2 separate regions of the Homo sapiens genome follow, and region 2 is linked to region 1. Evidence: fine-mapped QTL for protein levels in blood plasma. A gene starts in region 1. The other region holds a variant in brackets. All regions are shown on one strand. Distances are between the middles of the regions.

What was found. PIP is the chance, under the fine-mapping model, that this variant and not a neighbour inherited with it causes the effect. The UK Biobank Pharma Proteomics Project read protein levels with antibody pairs (Olink). The fine-mapping took linkage between variants from a reference panel, not from the people measured, so its PIPs are less certain.
Region 2: its variant is fine-mapped to the plasma level of the MAD1L1 protein (UK Biobank, PIP above 0.99).

The regions. Positions count from the first base shown.
Region 1 is chr7:2,227,759-2,233,098 of GRCh38, forward strand. It overlaps MAD1L1 (mitotic arrest deficient 1 like 1), which reads right to left and starts at 5,187. Exons shown (of 19, transcript NM_001013836.2): 1 at 5,114-5,187; 2 at 2,791-2,969; 3 at 2,226-2,385. The coding sequence starts at 2,375. RefSeq lists silencers at 4,686-5,105, 5,083-5,340 and enhancers at 5,096-5,340, 5,176-5,305.
Region 2 is chr7:2,210,766-2,216,055 of GRCh38, forward strand. It overlaps MAD1L1 (mitotic arrest deficient 1 like 1), which reads right to left. Exons shown (of 19, transcript NM_001013836.2): 9 at 5,120-5,234; 10 at 2,447-2,508. Among named protein-coding and RNA genes, the nearest start is that of MAD1L1, 20 kb to the right of the region's middle. The variant G/C (reference allele first, on the strand shown) is at 3,026.

The sequences.
Region 1 (5,340 bases):
CACTTCTGTGTCTGCAGTCAAGCCTGAGCCTCTCGAGAAGGGTGGGCACCCCGCCTGCAGGGGGCACGACCGGCAGGGACCAGGAGTCCCAGACACACCTGATCCGTGTGCCACCTCTGCCTGGAGCTGACTACAACGGAAAGAAAGGAACCCTGAAAGTTTACCCTTACGTTAAATCAACACGATGTGTGAGAAACCAGACAGCACACATTCCCCCGGCCTGCCATGTTCTCCAGGCCCTCCCTGCCACGCCGGGGGCTCAGCAGGAGAGAGAGAACCACGACGAAGTCCAGGAATGGGATGTGACAGGGGCCAGGGACCAAGGCTGGTCTTGCCGCCATCACTCCGCTCACCACCTTGCTCTGACTACCGCACTCCATCACTGATCCCCTCACCGAGAGGCCTTTACCAGTGAGCACTGGGGGCCTCCGAGCCCCAAGACAGACTCTAGAATCCCACAGCTTTGACAGACAGGCCAAGAGGTCCCAGACATTCGCAACACTAAAATCACAGCATTTCAGACCAGAGTTGCCAACTCTGTCACCCGGGCTGGAGTGCAGTGGCGCGATGGCTCACTGCAACCTCCGCCTCCCAGGTTCAAGCGATTCTCCTGCCTCAGCCTCCCGAGTAGGTGGGATTACAGGTGCCCACACCCGCCTAATTTTTGTATTTTTAGTAGAGATGAGGTCTTACCATGTTGGTCAGGCTGGTCTCAAATTCCTGACCTCAAGTGATCCAGCCACCTCAGCCTCCCAAAGTGCTGGGGTTATAGGCATGAGCCACTGCAACCAGCTCAGAGTTGGCCACTTCTCATTTTGTCAGTGATAAAAAACAACTACCATCTATTACCTTCATAATTTCACAAAAGAACATTTACATAAATATTATATATATACACACACACATATATATATATATGACCTAATCTCAGAATAAAAAACAGTCCTCATCAAGAAAGGGCAGTGAGCAAGCTAGCAACTAGCATTCTTTTTTTTTTTTTGAGACAGGGTCTCACTCTGTCACCCAGGCTGGAGTGCGGTGGCGCAATCTCAGCTCACTGCAAGCTCTGACTCCCGGGTTCACACCATTCTCCTGCTCCAGCCTCCCGAGTAGCTGGGACTACAGGTGCCACGCCCAGCTAATTTTTTGTATTTTTAGTAGAGACAGGGTTTCACCGTGTTAGCCAGGATGATCTTGATCTCCTGACCTCATGATCCGCCCACCTCAGCCTCCCAAAGTGCTGGGATTACAGGCCTGAGCCACCACATCTGGCCACAAGCTAGCATTCTAATAAACACACATTAATTCAATTATGCAACAAAACAAATGCACACGCACACACAGTTTAACCAAATGCAGCAGGGCCTCATCTGGGCTCTGAGAGCGCAGGAAGCCAGAGCCTCCTCTAATGCGGACAGAACTACAGAACGGCTCTGGGGACCGCAGCAGGGACTGGGAAAGAGGGTCCAGGCAGAGGAGCCTAGAGGAGCCTGCGCAGCCACAGGGCCCAGGCAAGGCTGGAGACACTACTAGCCAGCACTCCACTCCCCACCACTCCCTACAACTTGGGGGCCCCATTATCGCAGCCCCAACTGGGACTGGGCTCATCACTCTTTGGAGCCTGAAGTCCTTCAGGAGGCCTGAATCCTCTGCAGTTGTGTCTACAGTGAGAAACCCCAAGAACTTGTAATGAAACAAAATACAACTATTTTATAGAAGAAAACTGTAAAAATCACCCCAAAATCTGTAAATGGCCCTCCACAGTCTGAGACCACAAAACACCCAGTCCTTCTGCTCACTGCTGTGGCTTTGTCTCTGGGCTGCCCAGGCACTCTCAGCACTGTGTTTCCAACACAGCCTTCCCGACAGTCCTGGTGCTCACTCCCCCAGGCAGTTTGGGTTCTGTCCTCAATTAGATGAATGAACTGGCTTTCCGATCCTGTCACCAGGGTCTGTGAGTGCACTTGTGTGAACGCAATGCTGAGCGCCAGGCCCACTCAGGGCGCTAACAAGGCAGGCCTTTAAGCCAGGATGGCTCAGGGCCCCAACTAGCCTCCAGCTACGACCCCAAAATGAGGAGTGCCCATAGTGAGACCTGGGAGACGAATAGCTGTCTCTAGGCTCTGCTAATACCGACCCACCTCAACTACAGAAGACTGGAAGAGGTCCTGCCCGGGCCCAGGGTCTCCCCAGAGCAGACTCCCACCCAGGCACATGCCACTCACCTGCATGCTCTGCTGGTACTGCATCTGCAGAGAACCTGGGGCCGAGGTAGAAATATCCAGTCCAGAGCCTCCCTCCACACGCTGAGAGATGAAGTTGTTCAAAGATCTCAGGGTGGATAAAACCATGGTGTTTTCCCCCAGGTCTTCCATGGTTGCTTTCCTTCCGGGGACAGACAAAGGACTGGTCAGGGGCAGCCTTTCCACGTGCCATCAGCCGTGCAGTCAGCAGAGCCTCTGGACAGCCCCACTCCCCTAACGCACATTGGAGCTCATAATACACCCATGCCTGTAACCACATTCTTCAATGGCAACTGGGAGCCATGCTGCCAATTTACCAGACAAAAAATGGAAGCAAGGAAGCATGCCACCAAATCCCCACCAGCAAGCCACCAATTGAGTCTCAGTTGCACATGGACAGATGGACAGCTGGCGCCCGGGAGGCGGGGCTCAGCACTCAGGTGGCACGTCCCCCAACTGCACTGTAAGAGGGTTCTCCAGAGACACAGAGCCAACAGGACACAGAGACAGACACAAGAGAAGGGCTTTATTGGGGAAACTGACTCACGCGATTACAGAGACTGTCCCACAACAGGCCGTCTGCAAGTTGGAGCCCTGGAAGCCTGGCAGTGTGACACAGTCCAAGTCTGAAGGCCTCAGAGCCAGGGGTCCGATGGTGTAATTCTCAGTTCGAGGGGCTGCTGGGACAAGTCCTGGAGACCAAAGGCCGGCGAGCTTGGAGTGCTGCTGTTGAGGAGAGGAGAGGAAGAGTGTATCCCAGCTCCTGCAGGCAGATGGACACATTCGCCTTTTCTCTGTTTTTGTCCTCTCCAGGCCCCCAGGCTCTTAGATACTGCCCCTGACTCTGAGGATGGATCTTCAGCACCTGGTCCACTCAGACTCCCAAGCTCATCTCCTCTGGAAACACCCTCAACAGGCACACCCAAAACCAAAAATGATGCTTTCCCAGGTTTCTAGGAATTCCTGAATCCAGTCAGTTGATGCCTGAAACTACCTACCAGGAGCACTCACAGCAAAGTCTGGCCTCTTGCCCAGGCAGGGTGGTTCACGCCTCTAATCCCAGCACTTCGGGAGGCGGAGGCAGGTCCGGAGTTCAAGACCAGAATGGCCAACATGGCAAAACCCCACCTCTAATAAAATACAAAAACTAGCCGGGTGTGGTGGTGTGCGCCTGTAATCCCAGCTACTCAGGAGGCTGTGGCACAAGAATCGCTTGAAACTGGGAGGCAGAGGTTGCAGTGACCTGAGACCGCACCACTGCACTCCAGCCTGGGTAACGGGGTGAGACAGTGTCTCAAAATAAATAAATGAATGAATAAATAAATAAATAAACATAAGCCAGGCACTGTTGCTCATGCCTGTAATCCCAGCACTTTGTGAGGCCAAGATGGGCAGATCACCACAGGTCAGGAGTTCGAGACCAGCCTGGCCAACATGGTGAAACCCCATCTCTACTAAAGCCAGATGTGGTGGCGTGCACCTGTAATCCCAGCTACTCCGGAGGCTGGGACAGGAGATTTTCTTGAACCCAGGAGATGGAGGTTGCAGTGAACTGAGATCGCGCCACTGCATTCCAGCCTGGGTGCCAGAGCAAGACTCCGTTTCAAAAAATAATAATAATTAATTAAAAAAAAAATCTGGCCTCTGGGAATCAGAAACGAGGCATGCAACAGTGACAGTAAAGATGATGATCATCACAGCTGTGCTCATTTTCATTGTTTATTTCTAGTGACATTAATAAGTACTACTACTATTTTCAACTAGGTATCAGAAAGAAAGGTATCTGACATTTCCGAGCACCGAGACTTCTTGAACTTCAGTTTCCTCATCTGTAAACTCATGACAGTGAAATCTACTTGCAAAGTTGTGGGGAACGGGGCCAATATCCCTCAAGTCTTCCACCGCTAGATGATGGGAATACGGCTGCAGGTTGACCAGCACTATATTTGTAAGCTCAGTCTCAACAGGGTGGTGAATTAGGTCTTTTTACACAGATTCTAGAGATGATGAAACCGAAGCTTCAAAAAGTTACAGAACGGAGATTGGAACTTGGGTCTGTCTGGCTTTGGAAGGCTGAAGACAAACCGCAGTAAAGAACTTTGCACCCCCAACACCGGCGCTTACTATGGGCTCATGGCAGGCCGGCCCACCAGCCACAACTAGGGAACAGCCAAGCGCGTTTAAAAGCCAAAGGTAGAACTTCTGCAGCTGCACAGTTTCTGAGTTTCCATTTAACAAGAACCTTGGCCTGGTGCAAGCAGAGGCCTGAGCTCCCCAGGCTGCCAGCCCCGCAGAGGCAGGCCCGCCTGGAAGGAGGCTCCACAGCCCAATTCCTCCATTGCCCAAACGAGATCAGGGTGGCCCTTGCCATCCCCGAGGGGAAACCGGGCCCACACGCCCCCTTCCTGAGAGCGGACCGGCGCGAGCCACCAGGATGCCAAGAGCCCCTGCAGCCCCGACTTCTCCACCAGGCGCCAGCTCAGGCCCCTTCCTCGGCGCGCCGGCACCCTAGCCCGGGGACCCACACGGTAGGCAGCGGGACCCCGGGGCTGGGACCACGAGCACGCGCCCCTCGGCCGCCCGCCCTGGCACAAGGGACGGCTGCGGAGACCCAGGCGAGGGGCCCGCTGTCCCCAGCACAGCCCAAAGGGGGAGTGGGGACAGGGGAGTGGGGAGAGGAGGGGAGAGCACAGAGAGGAGAGCGCGCCCATGGGAGACGGGGCGGGCGCGGGGTCCTGAGGCACGGGGTCTGGGTCGTTGTGCCCCACCCTGGCGAGCACACCCGGTCCGGGCCCTCGGCCCCTCCCTTGCCATTCCCGGGACCCCCGGGACCCCGGGACCCCGCCGCCCGCGCGAGCCGGGCCGCTTACCTCAGCCGCTCGCAGCCAGCTTGCCGCCGCCGCTCGGATCTCCCTCCGCTCCGCCGGCGCCCATTTATCGCGACACTTGCGCCTGCGCTCTCGCGAGACCTGCGTGGCAATCGGGCCGTAAAGAACCGAGTCTGCGCACCGGCTGATCCTGGGGACTCCGCGTCCGCACCCGGAGCCGCCACCCCTGGGAGACTCCGCACGGAAAGGACTCGGAACCGAAGGCTGAG
Region 2 (5,290 bases), 17 kb before region 1:
GCCCACAGCCAAGGCCAACGCAGGAGACTAGGGGTCGACCCCCACAGCGAGGACGGCTCCATCCACCTTCCTGGCCATCAGCCTCCGGCTGCTCAGAGAGGACGCTCGCACCAGCCCCTCTCCAACTCACAGGGCCCTCCACAAGTACACGATCACGTCGGATCTTCACACGCAGTTGGGGAGAAGAGCTCCGTGTCCCCCTTTCAATAAAGAGAACACTGGCCCAGAGCAGCGCAGTGACTTGACACAGGTCTTACTGTTGGTGGCGGGGGGCAGGGGGAGCCTTGAATCCAGCCTCCGAAGAACTATCTGTGTTCCTCATCAAAGCTGCAGGGCGCCACACATGCATGCCACTTGCTTCCCGCCCACTTTAAGCTGGTGGTGGGCACAGGCAGCCCACCTCCACCAGCCCTACAGACCAACCCCTCCTCTCCCTCATCCAGGGCCTGGCCACCAGGGAGGGCAGAGTGAACACAGAAGACACAGGCAGGCAGAACCCCTGGGGCCAGCATGCCCTCATGCTGGCCACGCCCAGGCAGCACCCCCAGGCCAGCTCGCCCTCACACAAGCCATGCCCAGGCAGGGCGCTCAGATGCGGGAACAGGGCTGAAAGGATCCACAGTACTTTGAAACCAGCCAGAGACAGCAGCCAGCTGTGCCAGGTCTCGTGCCCGACTGACACCCAGTGCTCCAGGGCAAACTGCACACTGGACCCTCCAGCAGGGCCGGGCCCATCAGGCACGTGGGGGCCTCTGATGTCCCTTCACAGGAAAGAAGTCACAGAGGTTTCTCATCTGGCCAGAGTATGCCTGGGAGCAGAAGGGTCGCCTTCCAAGCAATTAATAAGCCCAGAGAACAGACAGAAGCACAAAGCATTTAGGCCCCGCTGAGGCCGGCCCTACAGAAGTCTGTGTTCTACAGGGGGAGTTCAAGAGGAGACAGCAGCCCGGGCCGTGCTCTGACTTAGCAAAGCTCAAAGAAAATGAAGAGGCACTTTCAGGTGACAGAGAACTGAAGCCAGTAATGCTGATGAGAAGGTAATGGATTCCAGAACCAGCAGTCGGACGGTGTGGTCAAAGGATAGCTCTTTCAGAGAGTCTCAGTCTCAGCCTAGTTTCCAAGAACAGCAGGAAAGACAGGCAAGAAGCGGGAAGCCTTGAAATCTCACAAGCAAACACAATAAGAGGCCGCCTCGGCACCAGCACCTCGGGCCCTGAGCCCCGGGCTCTGATGGCTCCTTCAAAAGCATCGCTCCTGCACCTCCTCGAGACCTGGCGCACACAGGGCAACCAGGAAGAGGGGTCCAGACCAGAGCTGCCAGGAGGTGGTCACCTGCAGGGGCACCGCGACTGAAGGGCAGGGGCCAACTGAGCGGCTGCTGGAGAAAGATGAGCACAGGGTCCTGGGAAGGATGGGGCAGGAGGACAGACAGGACCAGACCTGGGAACGGTCCAGCTACCTGTCTATAAGAATACCATCCCCAGCACCCAGGGTGGTCCCCCGGCAGCTCCACCCCACATCCCACCACCCAAGCGCTGGCACTCAGCTTGGCACAGACTGCGTGAAGAGGCTGCTACAAGCACCAGACAATCGTCTTCCACTATGGTGGGTGAGAACCGTTTGGATCTGTGTCCCTGCCCCATGCCTCATGTTGAATTGTAATCCCCAGTGCTGAAAGTGGGGCCCCGTGGGAAGTGTTTGGATCCTCGAGTGGATCCCTCACAGCTTGGGTCTGTCTTCATGATAGTGAGTTCTCATGAGATCTGGTCATTTAGAAGTGTGTGGCACCTCCCTCCCAACACTACTCACGCTCGCTCACTCTCTCGCTCTCTCATTCCTGTTTTTGCATTGCGGCGTGCCTGTTCCCCCTTCACCTTCCGCCATGACTGAAAGCTCCCTGCGGCTTCACCAGAAGCCGAGCAGATGCCAGCACCATGCTTCCTGTACAGCTGCAGAAGCGTGAGCCAATTCCACCTCTTCTCTTCATAATTACCCAGTCTCTGGTATTTCTTTATAGCAATGCAAGAACAGCCTAATACAGTGGGTTTTTCTTAATTCTAAAAACTCAGTTCATCTCCACTGGTTACAGTTCCCTAAAATGAATGATTTCCCCCAAAAGCAATTATTTCCTCGGTATACACCAAAAAGAGTCCTTTCACAAAGCCCCGCAACGCAGGGCAATCAGACGCCTGCCACTGGTTTGCTGTGGATATTCCGCTTCTGAATGAAGATGTTACTAAGGCTTCAGCAGGATGAGTCACTGGGTTCCACTGCCCCATCCGCTGGGAAAGGCCTCATTAAACCTGAGCAGCCCAGGACAAATGCCCCGCACCAGCCACAGAGATGCCTGGCTGGAGACTGCGCTGGTGAGCCGGAAGCAGGCTCTGCTCTTCACCCAGGACCCTTCAAAGAAGGCGGGACCCCGGAGACACCTGCCCTTCCCTACCTGATGCTCAGGCCCATGGTCTGGTCCAGTCTCTCCCAGCTTTGCAGCTTGGCCAGCAGCCTCTGAAAAGACAACAAAAGCACAGACCCTGTCATCACCTGCCACAGGATCATCACATAAGACTGACAATCATGATCACGGTGCTAAGTCCCTGACCTCTCAGGAGAGCCTGCCCTCATCTCTGAGCTGGGCGCTACATGCTCCAAGTCTGCTTGGAAGTGGCCGGGTTATTATTCCCCAACTGCAGAAGCCACACTGGCGCTTCCTGCCTCACTCCTTCCTGGCCCCGTAAATTCAAGTGTGAATCCCAGCAAGCTAAAAGCAACGTGTGGCTGTGGAGGGAGAAGGCAGACAGCCTCAGAAAGGATCCTGGGGTTGACTGTGCCCCAGGGAGCAGCCTCGGGTCCTTGAGCCGTTAGGACTCATCCCTCCCCCATCTTCCAGGGGCTCCTCAGGGAACCAAGCCCTGGAGCAGACAGACTCAGTCCTGGAGCCAAACTTCCTGCCATCACACAGCAGACCAGGACCAGCAGGCCCTAGGAGAGGAGGGCAGCCACCCTGGAGCATGAGGGAGGGTGA[G/C]ACACTGCCTACAGGCCAGCCCACCCCTCTGTGTCACATGCCTGTCCCATGCTGAGCCGCATCCCAAAGAGGTGAGTCTCACGGCCCTTCTAGGACGGAAGCAATCTGAGGGCAGGGACTCTGTGCCTTTGTTCTGGCCTCGCTTCACCTCCACCCAGTGCCAAGCACCATGCTGTTATCAACGCTCCACTCGGCAAGTCAGTGAGGTATTCTCACAGCCCCTCCTATGCGCAGGCACGCACTTGACTAGTAACTATATGACAGCCAACGCTACAGAACATTCGCTACGCGCCAGGCACTGCTCTGAGCACTTTGCATAGACTCATGTGAGCCTCACAGTCCTGACAAGGCAGCCAGCACCACTCCTCCCTGTGCAGACGGGGAGACAGACAGGGAGATGAAGGAGCTGGCCCAGGGACATGGAGCAGCAAGCACCCAACTACGGAATGTGGCTTGAGAGCCCCAACTCTTCAACCATCAAACAATAAATTACACCGCGGGAGAGAGAAAAGATGTCGCATGGGAGCTGTCTTTTCAGGCTAAGCTCCTACAGAACCCAGCACCTGAGAGAAGAGTCCCTGCCAGATACCCCCGCTGACAGGGAGCCACCTCACCGTGGGTCACAGGGCCAAGGCCCCAAAACGACCTTGGCTGTATCACAGCTCTGAAGAGGACAGAGACGCCACGCCACCCAAGGGGACTCTGGAAGTGGCCAGCTGGACAGCTGGGCAGCTGCAGAGCACTGCAGATGGAGTCTGCCCTCCTGCCAGGCCCCACAACCACCGGAGAAAGGCGGCATAGGTGTGCCAGGCACAGAGGGGAGTGGCTGTGGCCACAGGGAAGTGGCATGAAGGACAGAGGACCCAGGCAGGGGCCAGAAGGCCTAAATTCTGGTCCAAACTTGCTGTGCACCGGGCAAGAGAGGGAGCTTCTCTGAACCTCAGTTTCCTCCTCTGCCCGCAACATGACTGCAGGATGTTTTCCAGCACTGACACCTTCCTACCAACTGCCGCGGTGAAGACAGAACACCCCCAGCACAGGGCCCTGCCAGCCCTGATCCTCACAGTGCCACACGCATTCTGACTCACCCTCTGTACCAGTTTCCTGCTGCAACCGAAACAGATCACCACAAACTAAGTGGCTTCAAACAACACAAATTGGTGCGGCACAGAGGCTCACGCCTGTCATCTCAGCACTTTGGGAGGCAAAGGCGGGAGGGTCACTTGAGCCCAGGAGTTCAGGACCAGCCTAGGCAACACAGGGAGACCCCATCTCTACAAAAAAAAATTTAACATTTAAAAAGCCTGGCCGGGCATGGTGGCTCACGTCTATAATCCCAGCACTTTGGGAGGCTGAGGAGGGTGGATCACGAGTTCCAAGAGATCAAGACCATCCTAGCCAACGTGGTGAAACCCTATCTCTACTAAAAATACAAAAATTAGCCGGGTGTGGTGGCGCACGCCTGTAGTCCCAGCTACTCAGGAGGCTGAGGCAGGAGACTCGCTTGTACCCGGGAGGCGGAGGTTGCAGTGAGCCGAGATCGCACCATTGCATTCCAGCCTGGGGACAGGGCGAGACTCCATCTCAAAAAAAAAAAAAAAAAAAGCCCACAAATGTAATATTTTATAGTACTTTAGATCGGAAATCCAAAACGGGTCTCCCCGAGCTGGAATCCTGGTGTTGGCAGGGTTGTGTTCCTTCTGCAGATTCCAGGGGACAGTCCACTTCCCTGCTCTTTCCAGCTTCCAGATGACCCACATTCCTTGGCTTGTGGCCCGTCCTCCATCTCCACACCCAGCAAGAGCTGCCAAGTCCCTCTCACATCACTCTGAGCCCCCAGGATGGCCCAGGAGCCCCTCCCCGCCGTGGGCCAGCTGACCAGTCACCTCATTCGCCCTGCCAGGGAAGGTGCTGTGTTCACAGGCTCTGAGGATGAGGCATGGACCTCTCTGGGGACCACGATTCTGCCTCCCACCCCATCACAGCAACCTCCATGTTGTAGGTGAGCAGCTGGTGGGCGTGACCACAATACCGAGGCTCCTCCAGGCAGGGCAGAGGACACCCACAGGAACCGCACACCACACAGGCCCTCACCTCGTTCTCCAGCTCCAAGCCAACCAGCGTCTCCTGCATCTTCTCCTGGCGCCCCAGCTTCCTCTGCAGCCCTTCCAGCTCTTCCTGGAGCAGCCCGTTGGTCTCTCTCATCTCCCTGGCAGTGCCACAAAGAGTCGCTCAAATAGCCACACACCCTAGGGATAAGGCCAA